Homo sapiens: one gene and its partner. The protein of the gene in region 2 interacts with the protein of the main gene of each other region in a pairwise test. Each region holds a gene or a part of one and is shown on either strand. Other genes may lie near its edges.

The links.
Region 1: the proteins of CRYBB3 (region 2) and DOK6 interact in binary tests that used the Homo sapiens proteins (3 or more experiments, as listed by UniProt).

Annotation. Positions count from the first base shown.
Region 1 is NC_000018.10:69,832,755-69,848,601, forward strand, and holds part of DOK6 (docking protein 6), read left to right. Parts: intron 1-8,489; coding exon 8,490-8,629; 3' UTR 8,630-15,847. UniProt on the Homo sapiens protein: DOK proteins are enzymatically inert adaptor or scaffolding proteins. They provide a docking platform for the assembly of multimolecular signaling complexes. DOK6 promotes Ret-mediated neurite growth. May have a role in brain development and/or maintenance.
Region 2 is NC_000022.11:25,190,700-25,207,432, reverse strand, and holds CRYBB3 (beta-crystallin B3), read right to left. Parts: upstream 7,576-16,733; 5' UTR 7,524-7,575; exon of another isoform or gene 6,057-7,523; 5' UTR 6,037-6,056; coding exon 5,962-6,036; intron 4,760-5,961; coding exon 4,641-4,759; intron 3,671-4,640; coding exon 3,538-3,670; intron 2,214-3,537; coding exon 2,071-2,213; intron 387-2,070; coding exon 221-386; 3' UTR 74-220; downstream 1-73. UniProt on the Homo sapiens protein: Crystallins are the dominant structural components of the vertebrate eye lens.

The DNA of each region.
Region 1 (15,847 bases), on a different chromosome or scaffold from region 2:
AGACAGCAATTTCATTTACAATGGCTACAAAATATAAAGAAAACAATTTCATTTACAATAGCTATTAATACAAATATAATACCTAAGAATAAATTTAACCAGAGAAGTGAACATCTTTACAACAAGGGACAATATAAAATACTGATGAAAGAAATTGAAGAGTACAAAAAAATGGAAAGATATTCCATGTTCATGGATTGGAAGAATAAACATTGTTAAAATGTCCATACTACCCAAAGCAATCTACAGATTCGATGCAATCCCTATCAAAATACCAATAACATTCTTCACAGAAGTAGAAAAGACAATTCTAAAATTCACACGGTACCACAAAAGACCCCAAATAACGAAAGCTATCCTGAGCAAAAAGAACAAAGCTGGAGACATCACAGTATCCCAATTCAAATTAAACTACAATGGTATAGTAACAAAAACAGCATGGTACTGGCAAAAAACAGAAACACAGAACAATGGAAAGAGTTGAGGACCCAGACATAAATCCACGTGCTTACAGCCAACTCATTTTTAACAAAGATGCTGAGAACATACCTTAAAGAAAGGACAGTCTGCTTAATAAATGGTGCTGAGAAAACTGGTTATTTATACACAGAATTAAACTAGAGTCCCATCTTTCACCACATATAAAAATAAACTCAAAATGGAGTAAAGATTTAAATGTAATACCTAAAACTTCAGACTATTAAAAGAAAATATTGGGGAAATGCTACAGGACATTGGTCTGGACAAAGATTTTGGGGAGTAAGACCACAAAAGCACAGGAAACAAAAGCAAAATAGACAAATGGTATTACATCATGCTAAAAAGCTTCTGCACAGCAAAGGAAAAAAAGCTAACAAATAAATGAGACGACCTAAAGAATGGGAGAAGATATTCCTAAACTATTGATTTGACTAGGTATTAATAACCAGAATATATAAATAACTCAAACAACTCAGTAGCAAAAAAAAGCAAAATGTAAAAATAAGCAAACTCCTGAATAGACATTTCTCAAAATAAGATATACAAGTGGCAAACAGATATGTAGATATAAAAGCTCAACATAACTAATCATTAGAGAAATGCAGATCACAACTACAATGGGATATCATCTCACCCCACTTAAACTGTTATTATCAAAAAGACAAAAAATAACAAATGCTGTCAAGGATGTGGAAAATGGGAATGCTCAAGTGTTGTGGGAATATTAAGTAGTACAGCTATTATGGAAAATAAAATGGAGATTTCTCAAAAAAACTAGCAATCCCACTTCTAGGTACACATCCAAAAGAAAGGAAATTAGTATGTCAAGGAGGTATTTGCATTCCCATGTTTATTGCAGCATCATTTACAATAGCCAAGATAGAGAATCAACCTATGTCCATAAACAGATGAATGGATAAAGAAAATGTGGTACATATACACAATGCAATGCTATTCATCCATAAGAAAGAATGAGATCCTGTCATTTGCAGTGACATGGATGGAACTAGGGTCATTATGTTAAGTGAAATAAGCCAGGCACAAAAAGACAAATATTACACGTTCTCACTCATATGTGAGAGCTGAAAATGTGGATCTCCTGGAGATAGAGAGTAGAACGGTGGTTTCCAGAGGCTTGGAAGGGAAAGTGGAAGAAGGAGATAAGTGACGTTGGTTAATGGAAACAAAAATACAGTTAGATAGAAGGAATAAGTTTCAGTATTCCATAGTATAGTAGATAAATTATAGTTAACAATAATTTATTGTATTTTTCAAATTAGCTAGTAAAGAACTCCAATATGTCCAACACACAAAAAGAGATAAATGCTTGAGATGATGAATATCCCACTTACCCTGACTTGATCATTACACATTCTATACATGTTTCAGAACATCATGTGTTCTCTCAAAATATATGCAACTGTAATATATTAATAAAAAATATACAAACATACATTTAAATAGTAAGTTTATTTATTACAAGATGTCGTAGAGAGCCCTGGGTTGCTTCTACTTACATCTGGTTTTCACATTTACTTAACTGCCCAATTATTAGATACTCTGTATGTATTAGTCCATTTTCACACTGCTATAAAGACATACCCAAGACTGGGTAAGTTATAGAGAGAAGACATTTAATTGACTCACAGTTTTGCATGGCTGGGGAGGCCTCAGGAAAGTTACAATCATGGCGAAAGGGGAAGAGTCACATCTTCCTTGGCCTCAGGCAAGAGAGCAAATGATCAAAACAGGACCTTGCCAAACACTTATAAAACCATTAGATCTCGTGAGAACTCACCCACTATCGCAAGAACAGCATGGGGGAACCAACCCCATAATCCAGTCACCTCCCGTCAAGTCTCTCCCTCAACATCTGGGGATTACAATTCAAGAGGAGATTTGGGTGAGGACATAAAGCCTAACCATATCACCATAAGAAGCTTCTGGGCCGGGCGCGGTGGCTCACGCCTGTAATTCCAGCACTTTGGGAGGCCGAGGTGGGTGGATCACGAGGTCAGGAGATCAAGACCATCTTGGCTAACACGGTGAAACCCCGTCTCTATTTAAAAATACAAAAAAAATTAGTTGGGTATGGTGGTGGGCGCCTGTAGTCCCAGCTACTGGGGAGGCTGAGGCAGGAGAATGGCGTGAACCCGGGAGGTGGAGCTTGCAGTGAGCCAAAATCGCACCACTGCACTCCAGCCTGGGCGACAGAACGAGACTCCGTCTCAAAAAAACAACAACAACAACAAAAAAAAAAACAGCTTCTGGCCCCCAATTCATTGCAGTAAGAGCCTGTGAAATAAATAAAAGGGCTCTCTTCTGTACCCAAGTCGTTCCTTCCATTCTGTCTCCACCATCCATCCATGCTTACATCTGCAGCCTGCCCGCTCCTTTTTTCTCTAATGGCTAGAAGCTTACTTGTTAAAGGATGACAGCGTCTCCTCTGTGTCTATCTAGGCCCAACTGTTAATGCTTTGACTCTGGGCTGCTTGTGTCCTCATCAGATGACTTTGTTATTTATTTATCACATTGTTTGTTGTTTTCTTTGTTATTTATAGGGACAGTACCCTTTTATCTCCCCCAGATTCTAACAAAGTAATAAAACACATAAATTCAAACTATTAAATAGCTTTACCAGGCCCATTGTCTTTTACCAATTAATACTGCAAGTTTTATGCTTTGGGATCTTTCTGACTTTCTACAAAAACAATTTCCTTCATAGTATATATCAAGAATAAAATCAGTGTTATTAAGATAAAAATTCAGAGACTAGCCAAAAGGGAACCCTTGTTGGTCATTCTGTGTCAGCAACAATGCATTTCTTAATTCCTCGGGAAGGAGAGGATATTCACAATGTGTTGTCAGTCTCCATTTTTTCTTCCATTCATAATGTGAATCTCTGGTCTTGCATTTCAATTTGATTGTTATTTTCTACTGAATTTGTGCTCCTTCTAGTTCATTACTGGTTTGGATTTTTTATGATACAGCAGGGAAGCTTCTTTTTAAGGCTAGAGTGGTTTTGCTTTTATTGTGTGATACTCTTGAGTTCCTGGAATTAGAGAGAGGGTCATATAATTTTGGCAGAATAAAGCAAATGTTTTAAATGTCTCTGTAGCCAATATATTTTCTTATTTATGGAATGGGACTACATTTCTAGGGCATGTATACATACCTTAGTGAGAAGCTGGCAGGTAGTGGTAGTATGAATGTCATTTCAGAGTATACTTGAACTATGAGATAAATGTGATATGTTTTTTTTTTCCCCAGATTGTCAACATTACCTAGATATATGGGTAGAAAATAGTATTTTCTATTAAAACAAACATGAATGCACAATAGATTAGAAAAGGTAAGAGGACTTTTAAAATAAACCAATAACCATTAACAATTTTATTGCTTTTAAATTGTAGCATCCCTTAGATTCCAAAGTTACATATTTGCCTTATTTGTCTTTAGTGGGTGATCTGGAGGAAAAGTTTAGGAAGCATTTAACTAGAGTCCTTGTATAGTGTGATGAGCAAGGCTGTTGCATCAGGTTTTTAATTGAAGCCACAGAGTTGATTTTTATTTTGTTTTGCTTCCATCAACACTGTCTAGGGGCATAATTCAAATGAACATTGAAAAAATGCTTAATTATTTCTTTTTTATTCTCATACTCATTGTTGCCAAAATCAGACAGCATTTACAAAACCTTCATATATAGAGTACTGACTGAGGTATGCTATTTTTGTAATATGTATTAAATAGCATCATTTGTGAATTATCTGTAAAGAAACGGTTGCAGTAAGAAAAATCATAATTTAATTTCTAATTAGACTAGAAATTCTTCACAGAGGAGGTGAAGAAAGCGATGCTGACCTTGAGGGGGAGAATATTCTAAGTATGTCATAGTGAATGTCTTAGTCTTTTTTGTGTTGCTATAACAGAATACCACAGACTAGGTAATTAATAAGAAAAGAAATGTATTTGTTACAGTTCTGGAGACCGGGAAGTCCAATATTGAGGGGCCCACATCTAGTGAGGTCCTTCTTCTTGCATTATCCTGTGGTGGAAGGCTGAGGGGCAAGACAGGATGAGACAGCAAGAAGGAGCAGAACTCACTTTTATAGCAAAGCCACTTCTGTCATAATTAACCCACTTCGGTGGCAATGAAATTAACCTATTCATGATGACAGAGCCCTCATGACCTAATAACCTCTTATTAGGCCCCACTGCCCAACACTGTTGCATTGAAAATTAAGCTATCAACACACAAACTTTGGAGGACAAATGTGAACCAATTACCAGTGAGAGACAGCATGTTGAGATGGTGGAGAAAGCGCAGGTGTTCAGCAAAAAAAAAAAAAAGTGCAAGAATATCACCCCTTTAGTGCAGAAAAAAGAAAATTAACATTTATTGCCTATCTGTCATACTAGGTGTCTCCTATATGTTGTTTCATTTAAATCCTGAAAATACCTTGGGAAACTATATTCTCCCCATGCAGAAAAAAATGAGGCTCCAAAAGGCATGGAAGAACTCATGTCTGTCTGTTTCAAAAGCCCATGGTAGTGGGGGAGTTTGCACACTGTGCAGAGGAAGTTATTTGTGATTATTGAAGTGACATGTACAGTTTTATAACATGCTCTTCTAAGCCCCATTGGCTTTCCTCTGTGACCCTGTATAGCACTGGCTGTATGGACTCTTGATTTGATGTTTATTGTTGTCTGTCTTTGACCATCATTCAAAACAGCATGTGGACTCTAAAAGTCATACTTCCACACTTTGCCTTTCCTGTGGAGCCTGGAATTTTTTAATAGATGATGGTTAATATTAATCGCATGATTGACTTTTTACATCTAAGATTCTAGGATTTAAAAAAAGTGTTAATAAGCAAAGTCTAATTTGAATTTTCTTTTTTTATATTTTTTTATTATAACTTAAGCTTCACTTCTCAGCCCACAAGTAGTGTGAATTAAAGCTGCCTCAGCATTTGTTCTCTTTCAGATATGTCTAAAACTTTAAAAAAAAAAAAAAAACAGGATAAAACCAAGGCCAGGAGCATTATCTTAATATTATACTTTCCAGCTATCTTATGCTGATAAATGCCAGTATCCCCAATTACAGAAACTATGAATTGTCATCTAGAGTCAATGGTAAGATGAGACAAAATCATCAAAACTTTTAAGTGCTTTTTCCCATATCAGCTTAGTGTATCAGAACTTTGTCATTTCATCATGCCAAAATGCCACCTCCTTAGGGAGGCCTTTGCTGACCTCCCTAGTTACCAATCCTATTTGGCGATTACCATGACATGGTGGCAGCACTTAGCATGGATTAACTCATTGATTTAATACTCAAAAGGATCATATAAGCTAAGTGCCACTATACCATCCAGAATTTTTAGATAGGGAAACAAACCCAGAGATGAAGTAATTCCCTTAAGATGGGTTACAAGCTAGGAAGTAGCAGAGGCAACATATATACCTGGTGTTCTAGCTCCAGAGATCCTACTTCTAACCTCTAACTACTCCCTTAAAATCTCCCCTAGCCCCTCCCCTAGAGCCTCCCCAGCTCCTCCCCCTTCCCTAATCCCTTCCCTAGCTGCTCCCCTAACTCCTCCCCTAGTTCCTCCCCTAATTCTTCCTGCAGCTCCTCCCCTAGTTCATGACTGCTTCTTTCCCTAGCCCCTCCATTAGCTCCTCTTTCCCTAGCCCCTACCTTAGTTCCTTCCCTAGTCCCTCGAACTCCTCCCCAAGCCTCACCCCTAGATTCTCCCCTAACTCCTCCCCTAGATGTTCTCCTAACTCCTCCCCTAGCTCCACTCCTAGTCTCTCCCTAGCTCCACTCCTAGTCTCTCCCTAACTCCTCCTCTAGCTCCTCCCCATCCCCTCCTGTGTCGCTCCCCTTGTCCCTCACCTAGACTCCCCCTAGCTCTTCCCCACTCTCCCTAACTCCTCCCCTAGCTTCTCCCCGAGCCTCATCTCCTTAGCTCCTCTCCCAGTCTCTCCCTAACTCATCCCCTAGTCCCTCCCCTAGTCTCTCCCTAACCCCTCCCCTAACTCCTCCCTAGCACTTCCCCTGGTCCTGCCCCTAGTCTCTCCCTAGCTCCTCCCATAACTCCTCCCCTAGCCCCTCCCCTGGTCTATCCCATGACTCCTTCCCTAGTCTCTCCCTAGCCCCTCCCCTAACTCCTTCCCTAGCCCCTCCCCTGGTTCCGCCCCTAACTCCTCTCCTAGCTTCTTTGGTAATCACTACCTTAACCCATCCTTTAACTCTCTTAACTCCTCCCCTCCTCTGCCCTGCTTCATTTTTCCTTCACTATATCATCAGGGTCTTGCAGGAAAGAAGATGCACTCAGCTGAGATTAAAAGAATTTGATGAGGAGGCTGCTTCAAGAGCTGGGGGAACCGATGAGAAAATGCAGACATGCGCAACAGCAGGAAGCATCACCACCCTCAGGCCTGCGGGCCAGGCGAGGAGGAGTGCGGGGCAGGACCCTGGGAGAGAGGGGAAGGAGGGACTAGTAGAGCCTCCAGGCGCCGTGGGGCAGAAAGTTCTGGAAGCTCAGAGGACTGGCGGTGGCAGAGCCAGGGGCGTGGGGCAGGAGGTGCGAGGGAAAAGCCCCTCTTCTCTTTGATCCCCTCTTGCTGAGCCTGGTGCACTTTCCTTGACGTGGACAGCAACAGAATCCAGGACATAGTGAATCTAAAACAACTTTTTTTTTAATGCAAGATTTTTCTCTCAGTATTTTGACATTTAAATGGTTCTACCGCTAAGTGGTTAAGTGGTTCCGTTCTAATTAGCCTTTTACCACCCAGTTCATCCGAGTTTCCTCCCTGCATCCCAAGCTTCCCACAGTGAGAGAGTATTTTCCACGTCGCCAAACACACCTGGCAATAGAACAGGCTGAAAGCGAGTGACATTGCCAAGGACAGAGCCACCTGCGGAGCCTGACACAGAGATGGTCGGTGCTCGGCGTTAACAGATTGTCTTCTCTGTGTTCCTCGCCCAGGCGATCAGATGACACACAAATCAGACTCAGCACAGTCCCTCCTTTGGGTAAAATAGAAACTCTGAAAGAGCATGACTTACTACATCTATTTTTCTTCTCCCTCTAAGCTCATCCATTAGATACAAGTCATTCTCAAGTATGAAGAATAATTGCTGGCTTAAAAAGGATGAGGGGGAAAAAACAAATAAAGATGAGGAAACGACTGGAAAGTTCATCAGAAGCTTTAGTTAGCATGCATGCGTTTCTCTGTACATTGTTAGCATTCTGAAAAGTTTTCGGTAATCACTTCTGTTTTCGGTTTGCGATAGACTATTTCTCATGCAGGGGTGCAGCTGAACAACCAAAAGCATAGACAGAATTTTCTTTAAATGTATTTTGTATGGAATTTAACTTTTGGCCATTTTGGTAGCCATCGAGCTTAATTGTTTGGGTTAACCATATCATGAAGTGAGTTCAGTGACGGTGACTCACACACCGGCTAGGATAAGTCAGAATCTCTATCATTGTAAAAGCTTTCTTTCTGATAATTCATGGTTACTGGTTAGGGTAAAGCACAGCTTGCCTGTTCCCAGAGATTTTAAGAAAGTGTGTAATTTGCTTTTATATGCTGAAATTGAGCATAAAGGAAAAGAAAGCAGCTTACAGGCTCTCCATTAAAAACAGCTTTTTCTGGGGAAAAGCTTTTCTGCTTTTATTTCAAAAGTTGAAGAACAGCAGAAGTTTCAGATTCCCTAGAAAATCTACCTAGCTCTCTGGCATCCAGAATTTTTGGCAAAGTACATTTGGAGGAAATATTGAGCTCTGAATACATTTTAATTCATCAAGGATCAAGGCAACAAGATTGCTCAATTTTTACCAACTTATCTTGAGCTCAATATTGAGGATGTGAAAGCTGCTGCCTTGTTTATTGTTCTTAAAAATATAGATAGATAGATAATAGATAGATGATAGATAGTGTATCTTTTGTGCTTCTGAATCTGTTTCTCAGTAGAGCTCTCCTTTCTTCCTCTCTAGGTCATGGGTTTGGTTCGTCAAAGATGTCTCGTGCACAGACATTTCCCAGCTACGCCCCAGAACAGAGTGAAGAGGCCCAGCAGCCGTTGTCGCGGTCCAGCAGCTATGGATTCAGCTACAGCTCCAGCCTCATCCAATGACACACAGAGAGCCGCTGTTGACTAGAGAGACAGTCTGTCCTGGACCCGTCTGTGGGGTCATTACCCTCTGCCTCCTGGAAGACCAATTGCAGTACAAATTGAAATGGGTCGGCTCTAGCCCCAGTCCCATTGGAAGGTTAAAAACTGGAGTTCTGCTTCCTTGATTCAGTGGCTAAGTCCTTTATTTATTGAATTTCTTTGGGGGAATCTATGTTTTACATAAATAGAATCCAAATCGTATGAACAGTTATTTAAATAAACAAAATTCTTTGGGTCTGACAGTAACAGAAACCTCAGCACTGGGAAAAGTTGCCCACACTGGGGTATGCCTGGGTGATGGGCACCTCTCACTGACCTCACAGCGCAGTCCGCCCATCTGAGCACAGGGTCTGTCCTTAGACATAATGGTGACCCTCCACAAGCTCTGTGGCTTTTAAAGTTCTGACAGGGATAAATACAGTAAGCTCTGCAAATGACATCGTAGCTGCATATAAATAAACCCAGTGACAATTAAAGGAACATGAAATTCAGAACACACTATTAAGCAGGGCCCTGTAGCTCTACTCGTGTGTGTGTGTGCGTGTGTGTGTGTGTGTGTAGACAAATGGATATTGCTATATCCATCTATATATAACAAGTATATATCAAACATGTGCTGAGGGTGACAGGATATGCTCACTTAAATTGTTGAAAACCATAATTTGGTGCATTAAAGTTAAGATTGTTATGTTGAATAGCTATTTTTAAAATAGTGCTGTAAAAAAAAAAAAAAAAAAGGCTTCTTATTAGCAAAAGTATATGTAATCCAGTCTGTTCCTAACAAGTGTAAGCAAAAATGTGAGAAGGGGAACATTCAGAAGCAAAAGAACCAGTCTAGCTGTCCTACACATCATGTCATACCCTGTCTTTCTGGTGAGCGTTTCCTTGTTGCTGACAATGTTGCTCCCTGTGGCCATCCATCTGAGCTACGTGAGGAGGATTCCATGTGAACGCCGATCAGCTTCCATTTAACCTTGAGAGAAAAGAGAGGTTCTAAATGAAGAACTCTTTAAGAAAGAAAGAATACACCCATAAAGAACTCAGCTATTTTGCAGTAAAGAGAAGAACAAAATGGGTACAGGATTGTGGATATCATAGATGCTGTTCTCACACAACCACTGGGGGCTTGTAATTTACTGTGTAACCAGAACTTGCAGGGCTTTATTTTTTCTTTTACTGGACACAGGTTGTCTGAGATTATAAGAAATAAAATAGATCAATAATTTTCATCATCCCTGACACTGATTACAAACCTACAGTGTTTAAAGGGAGGTAGTGAATTCCACGGAAACTGAGTTTGGCTAATTCAGGTCAACAAAGATATATTTGCCCTTAATTCTGGAGTTAAGTAAAAATAAAAATTATCCTGCCTGAATCATCTGATGCTTTGTGCCTAAGATGGTTATCTCTCAAATACTCTAGGGTGGGTTTAAAGAACAGTGAGCTCAGGTCACGCAAGATGAAAACCCAGGTTTTTTTTTTCTTAATAGGAAAATTTTTTAAACTATCCAAATTAGTCTGTTGAAAGGGTACCTTTTTTGCTGATCTCTGATGAGTTGTCTTTTCATCCCTATCTGTAGCTTGAGTGCAGATTGACAATTCATTTCAGTGAATTACTACCGAATAAAAGTGGTTCCGGATCCCTCCTAGATAAATGTGCACTTACAGCAACTACCTAGGCTCTCCAAATCACTCCACTCGGTATGAAAACCCCATCAAGATACTAATCGTAAGAGTTAATGTGGCTGCAAAAAATAATTATCCTAAGCTTTCAGGGATAAAAAGAAAATTACCCAGGTTCTCTGCACTGTGAATTTTGCTGACACAGCGGAGGAGCAGATGACTGGTTCCTACAACTGTACAGCCTTCCTTGAAATCATAGCTTTTGGGGTTAAACACTTGTGAATTTCTTTTGCACATGGCATTTGCTTTTGAAATGCCTTTAGTCAAATACACCAGAGCAACTCCCAGCTGAGACCATTTGAGCACAGTTCCTAGTGGGGCCACATTCAGAGCAAGCCTCTCGCCGGCTCACTCAGTTGAGCTGTTGCTTAGACACCACAAGTTTCTACAAGGGACTTATGGGGAACGGCCCTCAGGGGTCCTGGTTCACATCTCAGCTTTATTCATGTGCTGGAAGCACAAACAGCGAGTCCAGGGAGGGATTCTGCTAATCAGATGAGTCTGCTCTTGTGTCTCTTTCTTAGGAGACAAATACCTGTATGTAATTGCTTCAAGAACTCCATTTGGTTCTGATCATTACCAATGAATATAACTGAAGGAGCACCAAAGATCAGGCATAACCTCGGGCCAGTTCATTCTGAAAATGATGTCGTAAAAAGAGTATGTGTGAGAGAAATCTCCTTCCCAAGTTTTTAACCAGATCTCGTCACAATGAGGAGAATGCTATAATCTATCTCATGGTACATTTTTGGAGCTTAATTCTAGCATACTCCTCCAAGTACACTCACAATTGTAGCTGAGTCAAGACTGCTAAATGAACAGATAGGAGAACTTATATTAGACTAATATCCTTGACACGAAGCAGGGTTCATTGTAATAAAAACGGCAAACAGATAAATCTTCTACCAAAACCAAAGATGGAAAGTCACTGCACCAGTCTCCTGGAACTTCATAAAATCAATTTCACTGGAGCAACCAGAAGGGTCATGGAGATGTATACCACTCGCTTGGGCTCGTAGGTTTTTGACTGGGGATGCCTCTACACTTTGTAAGTCATTTCTCCCTTCAAAAATTGTATTATATCTTTAATATATGTGTATTTTTCAATGCGAGGGAGGAATTACTATGAACCAAAGATATCTTTTGGCTCCTTCTGAAAGTGACTCAGTTTGAATTCCATTCAGATTTGTACAGATAAATAGATGGTCACCATTTCTGCATCAGGTTGGAAGAGACCAATGATAAAGGAACCCAACGTAAGGAATAGCAGTTCTGAAAATAGACAAAGCCTAGAGGAGGTATCTATTTCACTGAGAGATTACACGAGGGGACTTATTTTTTATGTTCCCAATTTTTTCTTCTGATAATATTAATCAATGTACACATGATTGATGCATGATATTACACTTAAAATGCAGGAGAGTACAAAACAACCTTGATCCAATAGTTTCCTATTCTGGGGGGTGGGGGCAGAGGCGGAAAAGAAAACACATCTTTCACTTACTTATTGAACAAACAATAAGCACTCAGAACTAATTTATTTATGCAGGTTGCAAATATGTATGAAGCAATAGGTTCTGGCCACTGCCACAATTTGAAATCAATAAAATAAGAAATATATATTTATATATGAGGGAAGATGCTGTTTGATAGAGCATGTGAAATCAATGGAAACATATTTATTAAAAGTAAACCTCACCTTTTTCACCAAATAGTAACTAGAGAACTAGTCCTAGTATCTTGCGTAATTCTTCTCTGTCTTCATTGGGAAATTATGTTTGAAAATCTTTCATCACCTATAAAATGGTGAGCCTCTTGTACTTTCTATTCAGTGTAGAAAGAGTGGACTGATAAATAACTTTACATTGTTGGTAGTAGTTTCTACAGATCCAGTTTATTGCATGTCGTATCTTTATTGTAGATATTAAAAACACATGATAAAAATTGATGTGTGCCCCTCCTTGTTTGGCCAGTATCACAGAAAACTTTGTAAAAAAGCATGGGGACCCTACTCCCTAGATTATTTGAGCCATTTACTAAAATTGGCCATTAGTGATACAGTGAAAACAAGCTAAGGAAATGATATTCTCCTAAAAAGTTATATTCCAGTTTTGATTATTATAACACAGCACAATAAATGGGCAGTATACGTCTAATGGAACTGAGATTTAAGGCTTTAACAATTCGTGTTTTAAAATATTATATTGAAGACTGCACAAAGAGAAAATTATACATGTTTCTCCAATCCTGTGATCATGTCTGTAAATACCTTGCAATTTCAAATTACTTCATCCGTCATTAACTATATGATCTCCCAAACACAGCCTTCTCAAAATCGATAAAAATTTGCCACTGAATATGCATTAATAGCTATAACAATGGGTGACATGCCACACAAATTTAGCTTATGCAATTTATGGGGTGTGTGTTTGCAGACTATGAAATGTATGAAGTGCAGTCTCCCATGGAGAGAATAGAGAGGCAGGATGGCAACTAGTCATGAACGCAACAATTTAGGTTAAATGATAAAGAATACAATGAAATGTCCAGAGTAACACTTGGTCTCTACCTTTCTAACATTCTAACCCAAGGCCAGTGTCATGGGCTTGGCTTTCTTCCCTGTCGCCTCATACTGAGTATGCAATTTACAGAGGACATCTGTTGCTTTATGTCTTAAGGCCACTAGAGGAAGTCACTACATTCCCAACAAAGATGTGTCTTTCGGCTTAGTGAAAAACATTTAACAAGAAACAATGTGTAACCAAGTCCCCACAGTAAAATGTGTCTTCAGAAACATGAGAATCACTTTTATATAGCCAACCTCATTTGAATTTTATCATGAACATAAATTATCGGTGAGACTGGTGTGCGGGGCTGGATCTGTGAGACAAGCTCACACTCTCATGTGTGCATTCTCTATTAACATATTTGGAAGATTGCCCACATTTTCTCTGCAGACCTGCCACAAATCCTTACCTTCTTACTGAAGAATGTGACTATTGTAGCATTCGTGCAATTATGCCAGCAGAGGAGGCACTAGACAGTTTATAGACTCTTATGGAAGTTGGGCACATTTCCCAGGCAGGTGGAATGCTAGCTAGATCTAGAAGCACCCTTAAAGGTCATGTAGAATCAAGGTCCCACTTTATGTTTCCCTTGGGAGAAAACTGAAACCCATGGATGCTGTAATTTGTTTAACGGCAAAGAAAGAGCCAAGAATTGTTTCTCGTAGTTCCAGGGTCCTGATCTAGGAATGTTTCCTTGGCTCCATGGCATCTCCCAGTTTGACATAGTGGGAGCTGAGAAATGCCATATGGCCTCAAAATAAATAAACCCTTGTACATTTAAGTGTTTTCCCAGATTTTCAGATGCCTCTACTCTTGCTGAACTCATCACCAGCTGTATCAGTAGAGAGGTGTTATGGGGCAATTCATTAGATTTCTGGTAGGTCATGAATGGTTGGTATAAGCTTTATTTACTCATATATTGTCATCCAGTTCTTTGAAATTCAATCTTATCCTAAAGTGGTAGTCAAAGTAAAACACATTAAGTAGGTGTTTGTGTTTAGCAGTCCTACTAATTCATCACAATCACATAGTAATTGTGATTATAATTTTTGGAATCTTTATCACTTTCTAGCACTTTACGGTGTCATTATTTATGGCATTTTTAACAACTTTGTTGCATAATTGATAACATCAGGGCTACATTTTTTTCATGTGAGCCTCAAGAAGCTTCCATTATCAACAAGAATTGGGGAAATGACTTTTTTACATTATAATACCTTATATATTAGGTTTTTCCTGATAATCTTCAGTAGACAATGATTTAAATTAACTGAAGTTTAAATAAGAAATATGTTAAAATTACTAAATAATATGAAAACCACATTATACTTGTAATTTTCAGACACTTTTCTCCTACCTTAAGATTTTAACATCTTGTAAATATTAATATTTGAAGGGGAGAGGAAAAATACATTTGTAGTAGAAATATTCCCTCTAACAATTCTGTTTAACTAGTAAGTTTTTTTTAAGTTATCTTCCATGCCTGCTTCCCTAGTCTGAACTCCACATTCCAGTTGTCAGAAGAATGAATGGATTTAAATTTTCTAATCATTATTTTGGGCCCATGTTAGCAGTTGAAACAATTAAGTTCCTCACTCTTTCCTGCTTTTAGGATGATTTTAGACTGTGAGCATAAAATCAACCCTTTCTGTCAGCACAGAATTGAACATCGAATGGAGCAAGGTCTACACTCTCAGCCTGTAGCTGTGCTAATGTTAGGATTGAATTGTTCTATTAATTCCCTCAAGAGACCCACAGCCTCAAAAGAGTTGCTTATTATCAGATGTCCGAAATTCAGAAACCCAAAGTCAGGCAAAGAAGGAAACTGAGATAATGATTTAATTTTTTTAAGTCACTGCAGGATTTCTCTCAAAGAAAACATCTGAAAATGGTTGAGAAAGTAGTTCCAGATCATTAACTATTTTACAGAGGGACTGAAAGCCAGGGAAAATAAAGAACAGAATGATAGTAGTATCTTGATATTAAATTTGCATCAGAAATGAGCAAAATATGTCAATATGAAATAATTTGAAATCAAATTCAGATTCACATGTATAGTGCATAGTTCAAGAAATAATGCTTACTCTTGTAAAAAAAAAAAATATATATATATGTATCAGCAGGTAGAGTGTGGGAGCTCCAACTTTGTTGTGAAAGCTGATAACAGAGTATGATTCTTTCCAGTTACAAAATACTGTATTACTTTAGTTATAGCAAGCAGTACATAAATGACATCAACAACTCAGGCTGCTCCCTGACATAAAAGCCAGTTCCATCTTTACTGCAGATGACAGGAGACTTTCCAAGACCTGCAGAGGCCCCCTCCACCCCAACCTTAGTGCATGCTCACACACACACACACACACACACACACACACACACACACACACATTTTTGGCTTTTGACCCACTCTGTGTGTTCCACTGAAGTTATCTTTTCCTTAATAGATTCACACAGAATTACCCCATCCTGCAAAATCCTTATCCCTATGAATCTCTAAAATATATTAAATAATGTGTTATATATTTGCTTTTTGTAAATCTTTATTTAATTAATTTATATATACTTTGTGAAGTCTTATACTGTACATCATAAAGCGATGTCATCTGTAGTTGGTTCAATATAATGTTTATGATCATTTTGATAAGAAATAACTTTGGACATTAGGCCCTTGTTAAGAAATAAAACACCCATTATAAATTTGCTTCTGTTGGAAAATACATGATTTGGCATACTTCATTTTTAGTAACAATCTATTCTAGATAAATGATAATTTGGGGACATCTGTACTTAAAAACTAGCTGAACTACGTTTTGGGATGAGATGCAAAGCAACAGCTGTCCCTGGAACTGAAATGTGAATTTCTAGCAGAACAGAAAATATTATAATAATGAGGCAATAATAAAATTAGGAAATTAAATTATTTTTA
Region 2 (16,733 bases):
GCCTCCTTCAGCACGCCTCTCCCACAGGTCCCGCCCCAGGCCTGGCTCCCTCAGGAAGTGATGCCGAGGAACGTGGCGGGTGGGGGACCAACCCCAGGCTTTATTGAGCAGATTCCAGGGAAGGGTGGACAGGTCGGCCCTCGCCCCAACCCTGGAGCCTCCTCTTCTTGCCCTTGCAGCCCCCCAGGGTGGGTCTGGGTCCTTGAAGTCTGGGTGCCTTTCAGCTGCTGGGGAAGCGGCCCCGCTTGTGCCACTTCTGGTCACGGATGCGGCGCACAGACTGCAGCTGCGGCTGGCTGGCGTCCCACTCATTCCAGTGGCGGTACTCGCCCCGCTCAAACACGTACTGGCGCCCACGGTAGCCGGGGAACTCATAGCCAACCCACCTGCCGGGAGACCAAGGTTGAGATGTGGACGGTCTGCTTCCAGTCACCCTGCCTCCAGCCAGCATCTGACCATGCACTCTGCCTGCCTACATTCCTCTTTAGCTCCCCAGAGCCCTTGGGATGAATCCAAACTCTTTACCCTGCTCACAGGACCCTTAACAAAGCATCTCTAGCCTTATCTCTCAACATCCCATTCACACTCAACACCGTGGCCTCTCTTATTCTACTTTCCCGGAACCTGCTGTGTTGGGGGGCCTTTGTATGCATGATTCCTTCTGCCTGGAACACTCTTGCTCACCTCATCCCTCTCCTTCCCCCTTTTTTCCACTTGCATCCATTACAGCTCAATTTAGATGTCTCCAGACTCCTGCAGGCTGAATCGAGTACCTCACTGGGACTCCCAGAGCCCCTTGTGCATCCCAGTCCCAATCCTGATCACAATACGTTGTGAATACCTGTTACTTTGTCTGTCTCTCCATCAAACTATGTAATTTTTCTTTTTTTAGATGGAGTTTCGCTCTTGTTGCTCAGGCTGGAGTGCAGTGGCGTGATCTCGGCTCACTACAACCTCCACCTCCCAGGTTCAAGTGATTCTCCTGCCTCAGCCTCTTGAGTAGCTGGGATTACAGGCATGCGCCACCATGCCCGGCTAATTTTGTATTTTTAGTAGAGACGGGGTTTCTCCGTGGTGGTCAGGCTGGTCATGAACTCCTGACCTCAGGTGATCCGCCCACTTCGGCCTCCCAAAGTGCTGGGATTACAGGCGTGAGCCCCAGACTACGCAAATTTTTTGAGGGCCAGAGGATGTGCCATTCTTGTTGTTCTCTGTATCAGCACACCAGCATATAGTAGATGTTCAGTAAAAAATTGTTGAATAAATTATTATCAGGGATAGGTGGCACCTCTCAAGGCCCAACCCCAGATTACAAGCCCACAAGTGAGATGTAACCACCTACAAAAAGCAGGTGATCCTAAGACTGCATCAACGGTGATATTAAGCCTAGAAAGAGGGAGGTGATAAGCCTGCTCTCCTCTGTACAACTTGTGTCACATCTCAATAACTGCATACATCCTGGGCCCCTTGTTAAGAAGAACAAGAGTTGTGAGGGGGAAGAACATTTCAAGAATCAGTTCAAGGGTGTGGGGATGTTTAAAAAAGCAGGAAGGACTCAGATGGGAACAGGTGGAGAGAACAGATTTTACTTGTTTTAAGTCAAGGCTGCCTAGAAATCTCAACAGTACAGGAGTGCAGGGAACATGAATCATGCAAGAAACTATAGGCACCGATGGCCGGGCGCCGTGGCTCACACCTGTAATCCCAGCACTTTGGGAGGCCGAGGCGGGCAGATCATGAGGTCAGGAGATTGAGACCATCCTGGCTAACACGGTGAAACCCCGTCTCTACTAAAAATACAAAAACTTAGCCGGGCGTGGTCGTGGGCGCCTGTAGTCCCAGCTACTCGGGAGGCTGAGGCAGGAGAATGGCATGAACCCGGGAGGCGGAGCTTGCAGTGAGCTGAGATCGCGCCACTGCACTCCAGCCTGGGCGACAGAGCAAGACTCCGTCTCAAAAATAAATAAATAAATAAATAAAATAATAAGAAACTATGGGCACTGATTCTGTTTGGAGCCAGAGGCATGGCTGACCAGAAGATGGGGCAAGGGTGAGGGTTGGGTCCCTTACGTCCCGTTGATGGCACGGACACTCGCCACACGGTCCTGGAAGCCATGAGCCCACAGGCTGGGCACGTCATCATCCACTATCTCCATCTTGCGGCCACTGAAAGCTGGGTTCTCAAACAGATGCAGCTTGTGATGTGGACTATCCTGAGGGCAATATCGTGGGGTGAGCGGCTGCTCCCATATCCAGAACAGAGGTCAAGGAGGCTCCAGATGCCGGAAAGAATCAACAGGTCACCACAAAATAACACCCACCCCCAAACCTGCTGCAGGAGGGAAGGGCCTCAGGAGATGCCTCCACCCCCAAATTCACTGTAGGAGGGACGGGGAGATTCCTCCAAAGCTGGTTGATTTAGGAACCTAGAGCCGTAGATTATAAAACTGAAAAGGAATTTCCAGATCTTGTTCAATCCCATCATTTAAATGATAGAGAAACTGAGGCCAGGAGAGGGTGGACAGAGATCAAAAGTATCAACATATGAGCTTTCCCTCTTTCCTAACCAGATGCCGGTTTAATCTTCCCAGTTTCCCCTCTTCCACTGCCCTCTAAGGAGGACTCAGTTATGTGACAAAGAGAAAGGGCTGGAGCAGCTGCGGGGTGTGAGTGAAGCAGGGGAGGGAGAAGGGTGGTGTTTAAAGTGTCACTGTGGGCCGGGCGTGGTGGCTCAGGCCTGTAATCCCAGTACTTTGGGAGGCCGAGGCAGGCAGATCACTTGAGGCCAGAAGTTCAAGACCAGCTTTGCCAACATGGCAAAACGCCACCTCTACTAAAAATACAAAAATTAGCCCAGCGTGGTGGCATGTGCCTTCAGTCCCAGCTACTCAGGAGGCTGAGGCAGGAGAATCACTTGAACCCAGGAGGCAGAGGTTGCAGTGAGCAGAGATCATGCCACTGCACTCCAGCCTGGGTGACAGAGCGAGACTGCAACTCAAAATGAAATAAAAATACATAAATAAAAATGTTTAAAAAGAGAGAGAGAGAAAGACTGCACTCCAGCATGGGTGACAGAGCAGGAGTCTGTCTCGAAAAATAAATAAATAAACAAATAAATAAAAAGTGTCACTGTGGACTGTGTCCCTTTCAGGTGCTAGAAAAACACAAGTGGAGAACTTAAAGTATTTTGGCTACTTTCTGAAGTTATTTCCTGGACTGCATTTCTTTGATAACAATACTGATTTGAGACTGGGCCATGTGGCTCATCGTTTTAGTACGGTTACAAAGAAAAGTCCCAGTGCTATGCTGGTTTAATTCAAGATGTGAGTCCTGGTGTCTCAATCCCCAACCGAATGTCCCTTCAATATCCCACTTCTTGTCCCACACAATTGTTCAAATCAGAAACATGAGGGCCCTTCCCAGGCCAGGTCCATATGGGCCAAACCCTCAGCCCAGCTTGTGCAATGAGCTGCCTGACCAGCTCTCAGTGCACCCTGCTTCCAGGAACACCCAGAAGTGAGCAGGAACCACACTCACAATATTCAGAGGCCGGAGGGACAGAAGGCTGTCACTATCACGGCTGTTGGACCAGGCATCCCAGCGAGGATAATCCCCCTTCTCCAGAACAAACTGCTCCCCGCGGAAGGCCCTGGACTCAAATGCCAGCCACCTGAGGGAGGAAGAGGCTTGGCTGGGTCACCTTTGCTGCAGCTGAGGAAGGATTCAAGTTTAGTGAGAGAAGTGTCCAAGAGCTGCTGACCTTGAACCTTGTACCCTCCCTCCAACCCTACTGCTAATTCCTGGACCTGTAATTAAAGGAGCTGCTAGGACATACCGGGAACTGTCTGAGACTCTGGGCCAGAAAACCATCCTAGGGTATGTTATTGAGAATCTAGCCTCTGTGCAAGGTACCCAGAAAAGTCTTTAGCACAATGCCCGGTACACAGTAAGTATTCCATAGGTGACAGTGACTTCTTCCTCTTCCTTTTCCTCTTCTTTGTATTGTATTGTTATTAATATGTATTTATTTGCATCATTCCATTCATTTTCATAAAAACTCTCTCTGAAGTACGTACCATTGTTATCCCCATTCAACAGATGAGAAAACAGAGGCCTGGTGTGTGAAGCAACTTGCCGAAGATCACCCAGATGGTTAGTGCCAGAGCCTGGACTTGCAATCCAAAGGCGGGAATTCAGGGCCCAGCTGGGAGACCTGCCTGCCTTGTGGACATGGATGGGACACTTACCAACTTTGGCCTCAGTTTCCCCATCTATAAAGTGGGAATAAGAATGATACCTCTGTCACAGGGTCATGACGATTCAATGACATAATGCATGTTAAATTTTAGGTGTTACAATTATTATTAAAATTATAAATATTAAATCCCATGTTCCAGTCACTGAGTTAGGTGCTAGGTTGACCTTGCTGTTCTTCCAACCTCAGGTATCCTGGGATTTTCTGCAGACATCTAGGATTCTAGAGAATTCTTCAACTCTCATTTTACAGATGCGGAAAACGAGGCCAGAGAAGGCAGGGGAGCTGTCAAAAGCCCCACAACAGATCTAGAGCTCAGACTGGGGCCTCCACACTCCCAGAAGGCTCAGGGCTGTGGCGAGGGACTGGGGGTCTAGGTACTCACGGCCCGGACTCCACTTGGATGGAGCCCACCTTCTCCAGCAGGCTGTCGGTCAGGCTGGGGCACTCGGCCGAGAGCTCGCAGCGTTTGCCTTGGAAGTTCTCTAGTTCGTACAAGATCACCTAGAAGAGCAGAGTCCTAAACATCCCACCTCTGCTAGGCTCCCAGCTCCAGCCTCTGCCCCTCCTTTGGGCATTAGAGGGAGGTACCCTCTGCTTTCTGCATCTCTCCAGCCTGGAGCTGGCACTGAGGTGGGCCTGCACTGCCCTCTAATGGTCATGGAGGGAAACGCCTTCAGGAACTTCAATGAGACCAATTAAACTAGTGATTGCAACTCTGATGTCCAGCAGGAGCCAGGTGGGGAGTCCAGCGGACTGAAATAACCCGAGAGGTCGGTGGGGAAATGAAGCTGCTTCTGGCGATGAGGGAATGAGGTCCCAGTTCCAATTTTTTCAAGAGAGGTCAGAAATCTGTATTTTCCTTAATAGGAAATTTCCCCCTTAAAAAAATGAAAACACCTGTTTGCAGTCTCGGGGAAGACCTCTGCCTGCCCCAAGCCTAGGAAGAGAAGGGCTGCAAAGGCAGACCAAGGTTTTGCCTCTCTCACCCACCTGGAAACACAAACTGACTTTGTAGAAGATCCCCAGGGAACATCTGTTCTAGTCATTTTACAGAAGGGATCAAAGAAGCTCAGAAAGGGTAAGATACTTGCCTCGGGCTGCACAGCAAGTTAAGAGGAGGCACTGGGATTCGACCCATCCTTAGACTCTGTCTGGAATAGTTTCCCAAAAAGACCCCGGAGATGGTTTGGAAAGGGCAGAGCCAACACATTCAAACCTTCTCTCAGATTTCTAGTGTGCCTCCCTCTGCTAGCTGGCTTCACTCATGTCTTTCAGCCTTTACACCAACTCTGGGCACAATATCTGGGCACCATCCTCATTTCAAACATGGGGCTGTTGAGGCCCAGAGAGCCTCCAAACCCTGTGCCCTTTTCCCCAGAGTGGGCAAGACACCAGGCTGAGGTCAGACAGGAGAGTCAGAGCTCAGAGCCGTTTCCAGAAACCCCCGGGCCTCTCTGATCCATTGGTGCAGGCAGGATGTGGGTGACCATTTCTGTTTTGCAGACGAGGGAAGATGCAGCAAAGTCATGAAGCAAGTTTCTAACGGGAGGGTGGCAGTGAGAGGACCCACCCGGAGCGTTTTGTCCTGGCCTGGGTGGTTGGAAGGATGGCTCTTCCTTCCTGCAGAGGTGCTGCTTGGCTGGGAAGATGACCCTGAGGCCCAGGAGTAGCCTGGGCCCTCTGACCCCCTCCCTGCCCAGTACCTTGTAGCTGCCCCCAAGGTCTCCATGGCTCTTGCCAGCTGCAGCCTGTTCGGGTGCTCCGTGCTGTTCCGCCATCTCCCCAGGAACACCTCTGGCTTCAAACCAAAAGAAAATGGTTCACTGGATCCACCCGGGAGAAGCCAGGTGTTGATGTGACTGGAGTCCAGGATGAGCTACAGAGCCTTGCTGCCCATGGGGCGTGGCTGTAACTTATGATCGACATTCAGTCATTCAGCAAACATCCATTGAGCACCTGCCATGGGCCACGTGGACTGAGACAGTGGGATCAGGAGCCCCATTGTACAGAGGGGAACTCTGAGGCTCAGCAAAGTGAGGCCACTTCCTCAAGCACACAGTGAGGAAGTGGCCTGGGTCGGGCCTGGCTCCAAAGCCCGTGCCCTTTTCCCCTGATCCAGATGCTCCCCGAAACCCAGGTTTCTCAGAGCTCTCTGCAGATGTCCCACCCCCAGAACCTGGCTAAAGGGTGGGCTTCAGGGAGTTTCCTCTACAGGGGTCTCTCCCACCTCCGTACTCCAGGAACTCTTTTGTTCACTGGTTACTTTATTCAACAAATATTCCATGAGCACCTACACAGTGCCAGGCTCTGGGCTGGGTGACCAGGAGGGACAGGAGACCCCATATGTCGGGAGGTGGACAGACAGACCTCTAGAGAAAAGGCTTGTAAGACCAGGTCGTTGGACACCTGCTCCAGGTCAGTTTCCCTGCGTTCGGTTACTCATTCCTTAAGCATTTATTGAACACGACTGTGTACCAGCCACTTCAAGACCCAGACACCGACAGTTCTTCATTGCTACAGGGACAGTGACACGCAATACAGGCCCCTGCCGCAGTCACATGGAAGGATTCTCATCATTGTTGCACCCATGGACACACACAGGACTGTTCTGTTTGTCAGCACACACACATAGGTGCACACACTCGCAAAAGTTTCTATGGTCACTATCAGTTATATTTCACCCATGGGCTCACAGGACAGCTTCTTTCTCTCTCTCTCTCTCTCTCCTCACACACACACATCCCTGCCCATTTCAGACATCCACAGTGGTAAACAAGGCACCTACATCTACACCCCACATCCAACTGTTACCCACCCACGGCTCCCAGCACGGCCACCCCAGCATGCACAGCTGCACAGCCCACATACTCTGGATGTGGGCCTAACCATGCACAGCCTGCGGGCTGTCGGTTCTGTCTCTCCTAGCCTCAGCAGGAAACAGGGCTTGGTCCAGCTCACAGGGGACTCTCGGGGGACTTGGCAGGTACCATGTGTGCCCACTCCCCTCCCTCAGAGGAGCTGTTTTGGAAGGTCCCCTGCCCTAAGCACATGTCCAGGGGCTTGGACCCTGGCCACTGCAGACAAGGGTCCCTCGTTCCACCCCCAGCTGGGCTGTCAGGGTCCTCTCACTGGGACCTGACCCTTAAGGGAGGCGCTGTTTTTCTTTGCAGGCGGTCAGCCATGCGCGTCCCACAGAAACTACAAAAGGTCCGGGCCTGCCAGGGTGGCTTTTGCCTCCCCACCCCCAACCCATCCCAGAATGAACCTGTTGCTGTAGCCTCGGGAAGAACAGAGGAGCCACGGCCGTCTGCAGACTCGCCTGTCTTCGCAAGGGGCATGCTATTTATGAGCACTTTCTGACAGCCCAGCACATCCCAGCCTGCTGAGGCAGCACCCTGTCCACCCAATTCCATCCAGGCCACTTCACTCCAATAGCGGGTCCACGGAGGCCCCCAGTGCCTGTCTCCTCAGCCACCGTCTCTGATGACTTCCTGGGGACAGATGAACCTCACTGGCTTTGTGGGAAGCCCAGCAGCGCCAGGCAAGGGGCACGGTGTGCAGCTCTCCCGTGTCTCCCCACAACCACCAACTCCCTTTCTTTGGTTTCTTGGGGTCACCATTTCCTATTGAGTCACACGCAACCTTTGGAAAAATTCTAGTTCTTAAAGTGAGGGACCCCAGACACTCTCCAGTTTCCATGTGCCATGTGGCCTAAGTTTTAAGTCAGATCACGCTAACCATACTCTCCAACTTGGGCGCAAATCCACCCAACCGTTTCCATAGGATGCCGTCACAGAACTCACAGACTGACTTTCTTCATGTAGAAGACACGCACGAATAATAGCTACCATTTCTTGAACACCTACTACACGCAAGGCATTGTGCCAGCTTCACAAGCATTGTATGGAATTCTCATCCAGCCATCCTTAGGGGAGGAATTCTGATTCCACTTTATACATGGAGAAACTGAGTTCAGAGAGGTGAACCCATTTACTCAGAATCACACAGCAGAGAGAAGGGGCTGGCCTGCTCCAGGACCTGGGATCTTAGCCTCAATAGAAATAAAAGTGACCATCACAGTCAACTTATTTATGACCAAAGAAAAAAGGTAGATCCAGGTATTTTTATTTTATTTTTTAGAGATAGGTTGTTGCTACATTGCCCAGGCTGGACTCAAACTCCTGGGCTCAAGCAATCCTTTCTCCTCAGTGTCCTGAATAACCGGAACTACAGGCACGTGCCACTGCACCCAGCTTCCAGGAATTTTTTAAGTGTCTAACAAAGTATAATTTTGCCTGTAATCAATATCTAATAAGTGATTATTTTATGAATAAAATTATATTGGAGCAAAGGAGTGAGTTAACAAGGTTTTCTTTTGTTGTTGTTGGTATTTGTTTTTGGCTAAAATCCTCAAGTCAGCATAAAACCCAGTTACAGGCCGGGCGCGGTGGCTCACGCCTGTAATCCCAACACTCTGGGAGGCCGAGGCAGGCGGATCACGAAGTCAGGAGCTCGAGACCATCCTGGCTAACACGGTGAAACCCTGTCTCTACTAAAAACACAAAAAATTAGCCAGGTGTGGTGGCGGGTGCCTGTAGTCCCAGCTACATGGGAGGCTGAGGCAGGAGAATGGTGTGAACCCAGGAGGCAGAGCTTGCAGTGAGCTGAGATCGCACCACTGCACTCCAGCCTGGGCAACAGAGCAAGACTCCGTCTCAAAAAACAAACAAACAAACAAAAACACAGTTACCCTGTACCCCCTAGAGGGAGATGGTGGTGAGATGCTGTGGATGACAGCTGGACTCTGAGTCAGGCAGATGTGTGTGACCTTGGACGAGTTCCTGAAGGTCTCAGAGCTACTGTCTCCTCACCATAAATGGAGAACCTTCTCTCCACTTGGGCCATTTTGGGAGGTCATGCAAGCAAAGCACTGCGCACAGTATCTGTTATTTTTGACTTTTATTCCCAGCATCCTGCCTACTCTGGACAGTTCAAGCCAAGGGGCTACTTCCTGCTGAAGGTCACAGAAAGCAGTCGGTTTGGACCCCCTGAGTTGGGATGTAGTTGCCACCAGCTGGGACAGAAGGAGGAAGGCAGAGGTGGGGATGGCGTGGCTCCCCCTCCCATCACATCTTTGAGGACCTTGCAGACCTACTGCACGCTCAGCACTTTGATGTACCACATCTCCCCAATCTAGACTTTTCAACCTTGACACTACTGCCATTTGGGGTCGGGTCATTCTTTGTGGTGGGGTCGGGGTGGGAGCTGTCCTGTGCACTGCAGGATGCTGAGCAGCATCCCTGGCCTCTACTCACTTCCTGGAGCATCTTCTCTCCTTCTTGTGATAACCAATAATGCCTCCTTTCATTACCAGACATGCTCTGGAGGGCACAATCCACCCAGCTGAGAACCACCACCTTAAACTGTTACCTGCAAAAATGTCCTGATCACCACTCCCATTGTATAGCTAAGGAGAACCAATGTTTAAAAGAAATCCCACAGCCAGAGGGTGGCAGGAGGAGGACTCAACCCCTTGTCAGTCTGAATGGAAATCCTGCCTTGTTTCCATGGCCTCCCATTCTGCATGGACACCCTCTCCCAGGACCCCAGCTCTGCCCTCTCGCTGGCTGGCCCACAGCTCAGCACAGGACAGACTGACTCAGCCAGCCCCAGTCAGGGCCTGCATGCATGGGAGACTCTATTCATTCACACATGGACGCACCGACTTCTCCAATGCAACTTGCACCAAAGCTTTATTTGCTATTTTCATAGTCTGAATGCAACATCTTTGTACATGCAAAGGTCATCTTGTTTTATTGCAGTCGACCAGATTTCCAACTGCTCTTCTGTGCATATGAAACTTCTTTACAGTTACAAAATATAAAAGCACTTGTAGACGTCCAATACTCTGTGAGGTCTGGTAAGCCCCATTTGTTTTTACATTAAAAATATAAGTTTTTCTAGATGACTTCTCAGTCACACGGTTAGAGATTCTTTCTGGGACTGGATAAAGTGCCTCTCGTCTGCCTTCCGTTCAGAACTCCTAGAGCTTGTGAATTCCTAAGGCAATTGCAAGAACACCGCAGGCAGGAAGCTTAACTTTCCTACACAAAGAACTCGAGCTCCTTTTCTATCGTGACTCAAAGATCTGAGGAAGGACCCAGAAGAAAGGTTAGGAAAATATATACTATACTTGTGTGTGTGTGTGTCTCTGTGTGTGTGTGTATATATATATATTTCCACGCCCTGCCCCATCTTACAAAGCATTTGGAGGATCACGATCATCTGGGAAGTGCATGACTTTAGGATATTGGTATGATTTAGGAAACAGCACAGTACAAAATTATCTTCCATAACACAATATATTACTTTTGTGACCCCCCCTATTTACAGGATCTATAAGGCTATGTGGAATGAGATTATTAAAAAGCTCAAATTCAGCTGGGCATGGTGGCTCAGGCCTGTAATCCCAGCACTTTGGGAGGCTGAGGCAGTAGAATCACTTGAGACCAAGTTTAAGACCAGCTTGGGCAATATAGTGAGATCCTGTTTCTACAAAACAGATTTAAAAGATCAGCTGGGCGTGGTGATGTGCGCCTGTCATCTAGGCTACTCTGGAGGTGGAGATGAGAGGATTGCTTGAGCCCAGGAGTTGGAGGCTGGAGTGAGCTATGATTGTGCCACTGCATTCCAGCCTGGCCAACAGAGCAAGACCGTGTCTCAAGAAAAGAAAAAAAAAAAAGTTCAAATTCTTTAGAAAACAGCATAATTTGTAGCCCGTGTGATGCCAATAGGAATTGTCAAGGAAGTGCCCGTCCAAGTCATGGAAGATGATGTTATGGCACAGGTGTGAGAGCAACCACTGAAGGAGATTCTGGGAAGGCCAAAGGGGAGGGCGGGCTGAGGGGTGTCCATTTTAAGGGTTAACTTGCCGGAAACCTCAGGCCGACTTTCCAGAGCAGAGGGCCTAGCTTTCTGCCCTTCCCCCTGCAGGAGCCAATTTAGTCAAAAGAAAGCAAACTCTGGATTGGGGGGTGCAAAAGGAGACGCAGGCTGGCAAAGACCTGGCACACTCATGCCTACCAGCTTTTTACGTGGCTCTAAACTTCCTGAGCCCACCCAGAATTCCAACTGGGTGAGTCCTAGCAGCCTCTTAGCACACAGCAAGAGTCCCCCACTCGCTAATGGGACCGAGCCCAAAGCAGATCCCCTTTAGATGTGGAGTGGGTCCTATCCCTCCAGCCCCTCGGAATCATGATGCCATGGAACTTCGGCTTTTGTGTTTTAACACACGGTGAGGGGGAAGGCACATTCAGAGACCACAGAATGTCTCCCCATCACTTACTCTGGTTTAAATATCTACACTGGGGAGGAGGGATTTTTACAGTTTGCAATTACGACTAGTTCCAGGAGCCATCTGGGGGCATTATAAAGAAAAATTTTAAAGCATAGATCAACAAAGCAGCTATCAGCACCAGGTTGGAGCAGCTAAGGTCTCTTTTAGGAAAATCATGCTAAGGGTCTTTCTAAATCCTTTGCCCAGCCTGTAAAGTTTAAAACCACAGGCTCATGCCTATTTCTCTTTTGGCTTCTTGGTGATACCCTTAGTTGGCCTCCCTTCCAGGGAGGCACAAAGGCAAACACAATTGTCTGAAACCACATGATTTGGCGCGTCCCCCTGGAAAACACCGCCATCTGATTGTCCTTTCCCTGAATCCTGAGGCTATCAGGTCAGGTTCACTCAAAATCCCAACATCCTAAAGACCACGAGGTTTCTCTTTCACCAGAGTTTCTCCGGTGGCATGGAGTAATCCTCCACAACACTGATTTCTGAGGCCTTGTCATGGATTTTCAAAGGCCAAAAGCCTCTGTTTGATTAGGCAAAGGACCATGAAGAAGGGTATCTACTGAAGAGGAAAAAGATACAGGCTTCTCAAAAGATCAGCTGTTAAAATGCTGATGTGCAAAGGGGTGGTGGAGGTGAGGAGGAAGAGAAATGAGGGGGAGAGAGATTGTACATATAGAGGATTTTCCATTCTGCATGAAACTCTCATTGAGGACAGCCAAAGCCCCAGGGGAGGAGGGTTAGATTGAGGAGCGGATGACTCCATTACACACAGATGATTAAGGCATATTAAGTGAGTTTAAAAAGAAGACAGATTTCCAAAGGGGTCTCCAGGCAAAGTCTAGAAACTAGCATACAACGCCTCCTTGCTTAGCCTCAAAGAGAGCTCACTCCATTTAGAATGGGGATAAGTAAATCACCCATTTGCCCAGCTATCTGCAAAGGCTCCCAATCATCAGTTACTTCTAACTTCATTGCACTGATCATAAGCAGGTCTCAGAGGTCATGGCAGAGCCCACGTGAAAGAGGGTCGCTCTTGACCCACTGTGATTGTCTTCCCTGTGGTGCTGGAGGAGACAAGGTTATAGAAAAATAAAAGGAGGTGAGGAAGATCTTCAGGGCTTGCCCTAGTCACTTTCAAGGAGGGTGAACTTTGTATATCCTAATTAACATAGAATTAATTGATTATTTTTCCAATTAAGGTATGAGAGATTAGGGAAAAAAAATCTCCAGGTCAATCTCATTTTCAAGTGTGTTTCATTCCTGTCTGATATCCTTGAGCTGAGACATGACTAATTAAGAATTGAGAGTTTTGCATGAGGACCATCAATATATGTAAGAGCAGGTCCTTTCCTACTGCTTGAGATGGTACCAAGGGGTCCTTTCCACCTGAAGGAAAGAGAGACAGCAGCCCAGATAAGAAGTCAGGATCAAAAGACTAGGAATGTGTTTCAGGCCAGGTGCAGTGGCTCATGTCTGTAATCCGAGCACTTTGGGAGGCTGAGGAGGGACAATTGCTTGAGCCCAGAAGTTCGAGACCAGCCTGGGCAACATGGTAAGACCCTTGTCTCTACAAAAATATTTAAAAATTAGCTGGTCATGGTAGCATACACCTGTAGTCCCAGCTACTTGGGAGGCTGAGGTGGGAGAATCACTTGAGCCCAGGTGTTAGTGAGCTATGATCGTGCCACTCCACTCCAGCTTGAGCAACAGAGTAAGACCTTGTCTCAGAAAAACAAAACAAAACAAAACACTAGCAGGGTATTTTTAAAGGGGATCCTATTGACGTTGAAAGCCATAAGATCAAAATTATTATAAAACATAAACTGGATCTTTAAAAAAGAATTCGACTGAAGCAGTTGCAGGCATGAATCCCCAAATGGCCACGGAGAACTGATGACTAATTCAGGGAATGAAGAGAAAACAAACTATCATCAGCAGGGCCAAACTCCCAAACCCAGATGCATGAGGCTCCCAGGTGTAAAAGGCTGGGTGGGTGACATGATCTGGCAATTGCTCATCAGTAACCAAAGCTCATCGAACAGGACACAAGGTGGGCTCCGGCCTCACAGCCCTGCAGTTGCTGTCCCTGGTGCTGAACAGCAACTGCCTCACCAGGGCCCAGGTGTTTATCCTAACCTAAAGAAACAGAGGATTTCTATCCATGCCCATCCACCCACTAAGACAGAGAAGAGGGGTAAAGGAAGATGAGGGAGGAAGCTGAGACAGAGAGACAAATGAACTCCTGAGAGGTAGCCAGGGAGAAGGAAAGCATGTTTTGACAGCATTTGCAAATAATGGATTCATCAAGAAAGATGAAGGAAAATGAGGTGAGCAAAAGCAAAAAGTACCCTTCATTCATGCATCTGTTCTGAGGCCAGTTTGGAACAACTCCTCCATGCCAGCAGCCCACGTCATGTTCAAAGAAGACTCTGGAGAAAAAGATTACTAGGGCAGGTCTGATGATTCATAAGCAAAGGCACCACCACTTGGGCTGCAGTTTATGAACCCTTAAGGCCAAGGGGCAAAGGTCACCCTACCGAAACCAGAGCTCAAATGAAAAGAAGCCATGGAAATAAATACAAGAGTGACAATTATAACTTCTAAACAGCTTGGATAGGGATAAGATAACCTGAGGTGACTGGATACTTCAGAACAAATTATTCGCACATCTTTCCTCCTGTCCTTTAACGTAAACACATATATACCTATCAAGTTTCAAAGAAAATTAGCTGAATTATTGCTTTATCGCCTTCTAAAGCAAACAAAAATGACATACAATAACATAGGCCAACGATGCACACAGCCCCACTAGAAAGAGAAATACACATAATCAGGGAGAGTATGTTTAAAAATTGGAACTGCTGATTCCTCAAGGGGAAGAAGGAACTCACCAAAAAAAAAGAATAGAAAACCTCAACCCAGCGGTAATACCCTGCACCGAGACTACAGCAGAAAATGAACAGTTTGATCTTCCTTGGAAATGTCCTTCCAAAAAAAGACCTGCCCCGGGGTCGGGTGAGGAGGTGCTTTCACAAATGCAGGTGTTTTTCAGAACCTGGGGAGACAATTCCAGCCTCACACTGATGTTCTTGGAGCTGATGAAGGTGTCTAAAATAGGTAGAAATGCAAATTTTTACATAAAAAGCAAAACCACCCACATGGACGTTTCTGGGCAGCCTGGCTCCTTTCCCAGCCTGAAGTGCTGTCTGGGGAGATGAGCGAGTGCTCCTGGAGGTTGGGTCTTCCCGTCTGGATCCAGGGAGAGCCTGGCGAGGACAGGGGCACTGGATAGCGTTCTCAATCCAATGGGAAGGGCCCAGGCACGTAAGCGTTGTGCAGGAAGAAACGGCAGCAGCTCGGCCTCGTCTGCGGGTTCTGATGGTTAAGGCTTCTGTTACGTAGATGTGGCAGTGTTCCCTGCCTGGAGAGGAAGGGACAGTACTGGTGTCAGCAGTGGGAACATTTGGCTCCATTGCTCTCTACCCTCAGTCCTTAAAATCTCACCTGATATTCTCCAATGAAGTCACCCCTAGAAGCCTAAGGTCACAAAAGAGATTTTTTGTGTTGGGTGGAAAGGGGAGGTGAGGAGGGTGGCAGGCATGGAATACAGTGAAACCAACATGAAATTTAGGGTCAGGTCAGGGTTCCAGTCTCAATTCTGAGCCTCAGTTTCCTCAAAGGGGTTGCTGGAGGCTTAAATGAGATATTACATGTACTGCACCAAACACAAAATAAACACAGGTCCCGATCCCTTATCCAAATCCCTTGAGCATAGTTTTATTTGGGAATTTATAATTTTTAGTATTTATTATACATACACACATGCATCATACATAATCATGTAATATATACACATATGTATATATATACATATGTAACACCACCATAATCAAGCAGATAATATTCCTGCAGTGTATTATGAACATTCATATAAAGTGGGGAAAATAGAGTCAAAGTAGAATTATATTCACTCAGGTCAGGTTTTACCACTGACTTAGGAAAAAGCTTTGTTTTGCAGGGCTTTCTGGAATTTGGCTTTGTGGATAAGGGATGGTGAGTCTCTTGTGCTCATCACATCAACGCTGACTTTGATGGTGCACGTACCATGAGCTCCTATACTGAGGAGAAACAGGCAGCACTCAGTCAAGCACCACAGGTGCATTCTCAGTGAGCCCTGAGGACAACTCGGTGGTGTGGACACTGCTAACCCATTTTACAGATGAGGAAACTTAAGTTCATGATGTTCAGTCATTTGCAACTTACACCAGGGCCTATCTAATCGTAATTTTTAATGTATATTTTTTCAAATTCATTTTTAACTACATAGGTTGTATATGAAACACTCCCCCTATAAAAACTGTAACCATTTCTGGCCGGGCACAGTGGCTCACGCCTATAATCCCAGCACTTTGGGAGCCAGAGGTGAATGGATCACCTGAGGTCAGGAGTTCGAGACCAGCCTGTCCAACATGGTGAAACTCCATCTCTACAAAAAATATAAAAATCAGCTGGGCATGGTGGCAGGCACCTGTAATTCCAGCTACTTAGGAGGCTGAGGCAGGAGAATCGTTTGAACCCGGGAGGCAGAGGCCGCAATGAGCCAAGATCCGAGATTGCATCATTGCACTCCAGCCTTGGTGACAAGGGCGAAACTCTGTCTCAAAAAAAAAAAAAAAAAAAAGTAACCATTTCTAATTAAGCTAACCTCTGATGTCCCCGCCCTTTTGTTTTATCAGAGGGGACTGTGATGCAGCTAGAAGGGTCAGCCAAGTGCATGAGACCAGAGCCCCAGTCACCTGCCTCCTGGCCTGGTACCTTTCACCCACTCCAGGCAGCCCAGCTTTGTTTTCTCCCTAAATGGAAACAGACATAACCATCCTCTTTACAGGAACTCAGAACACCCCCCACCCCTCATTCTTCCCCTTACACAGCCTCTTTCCTTGGGTACAACAGCCCCAGTCTCTGAAGCGTGGCCCCCCTGAGTTCCCCATTCCTGTGACTGCAGGGCTCTTCCCAGGTTCCCCAACAGAGCCCCTTCATACCTGGTCAAACTTGGTTCTCATAAAGACTTTGCCTCTTCTTGGATTTCAATTCCTTTAGCCACTGGGGAGAGGGTTCATCCGACCT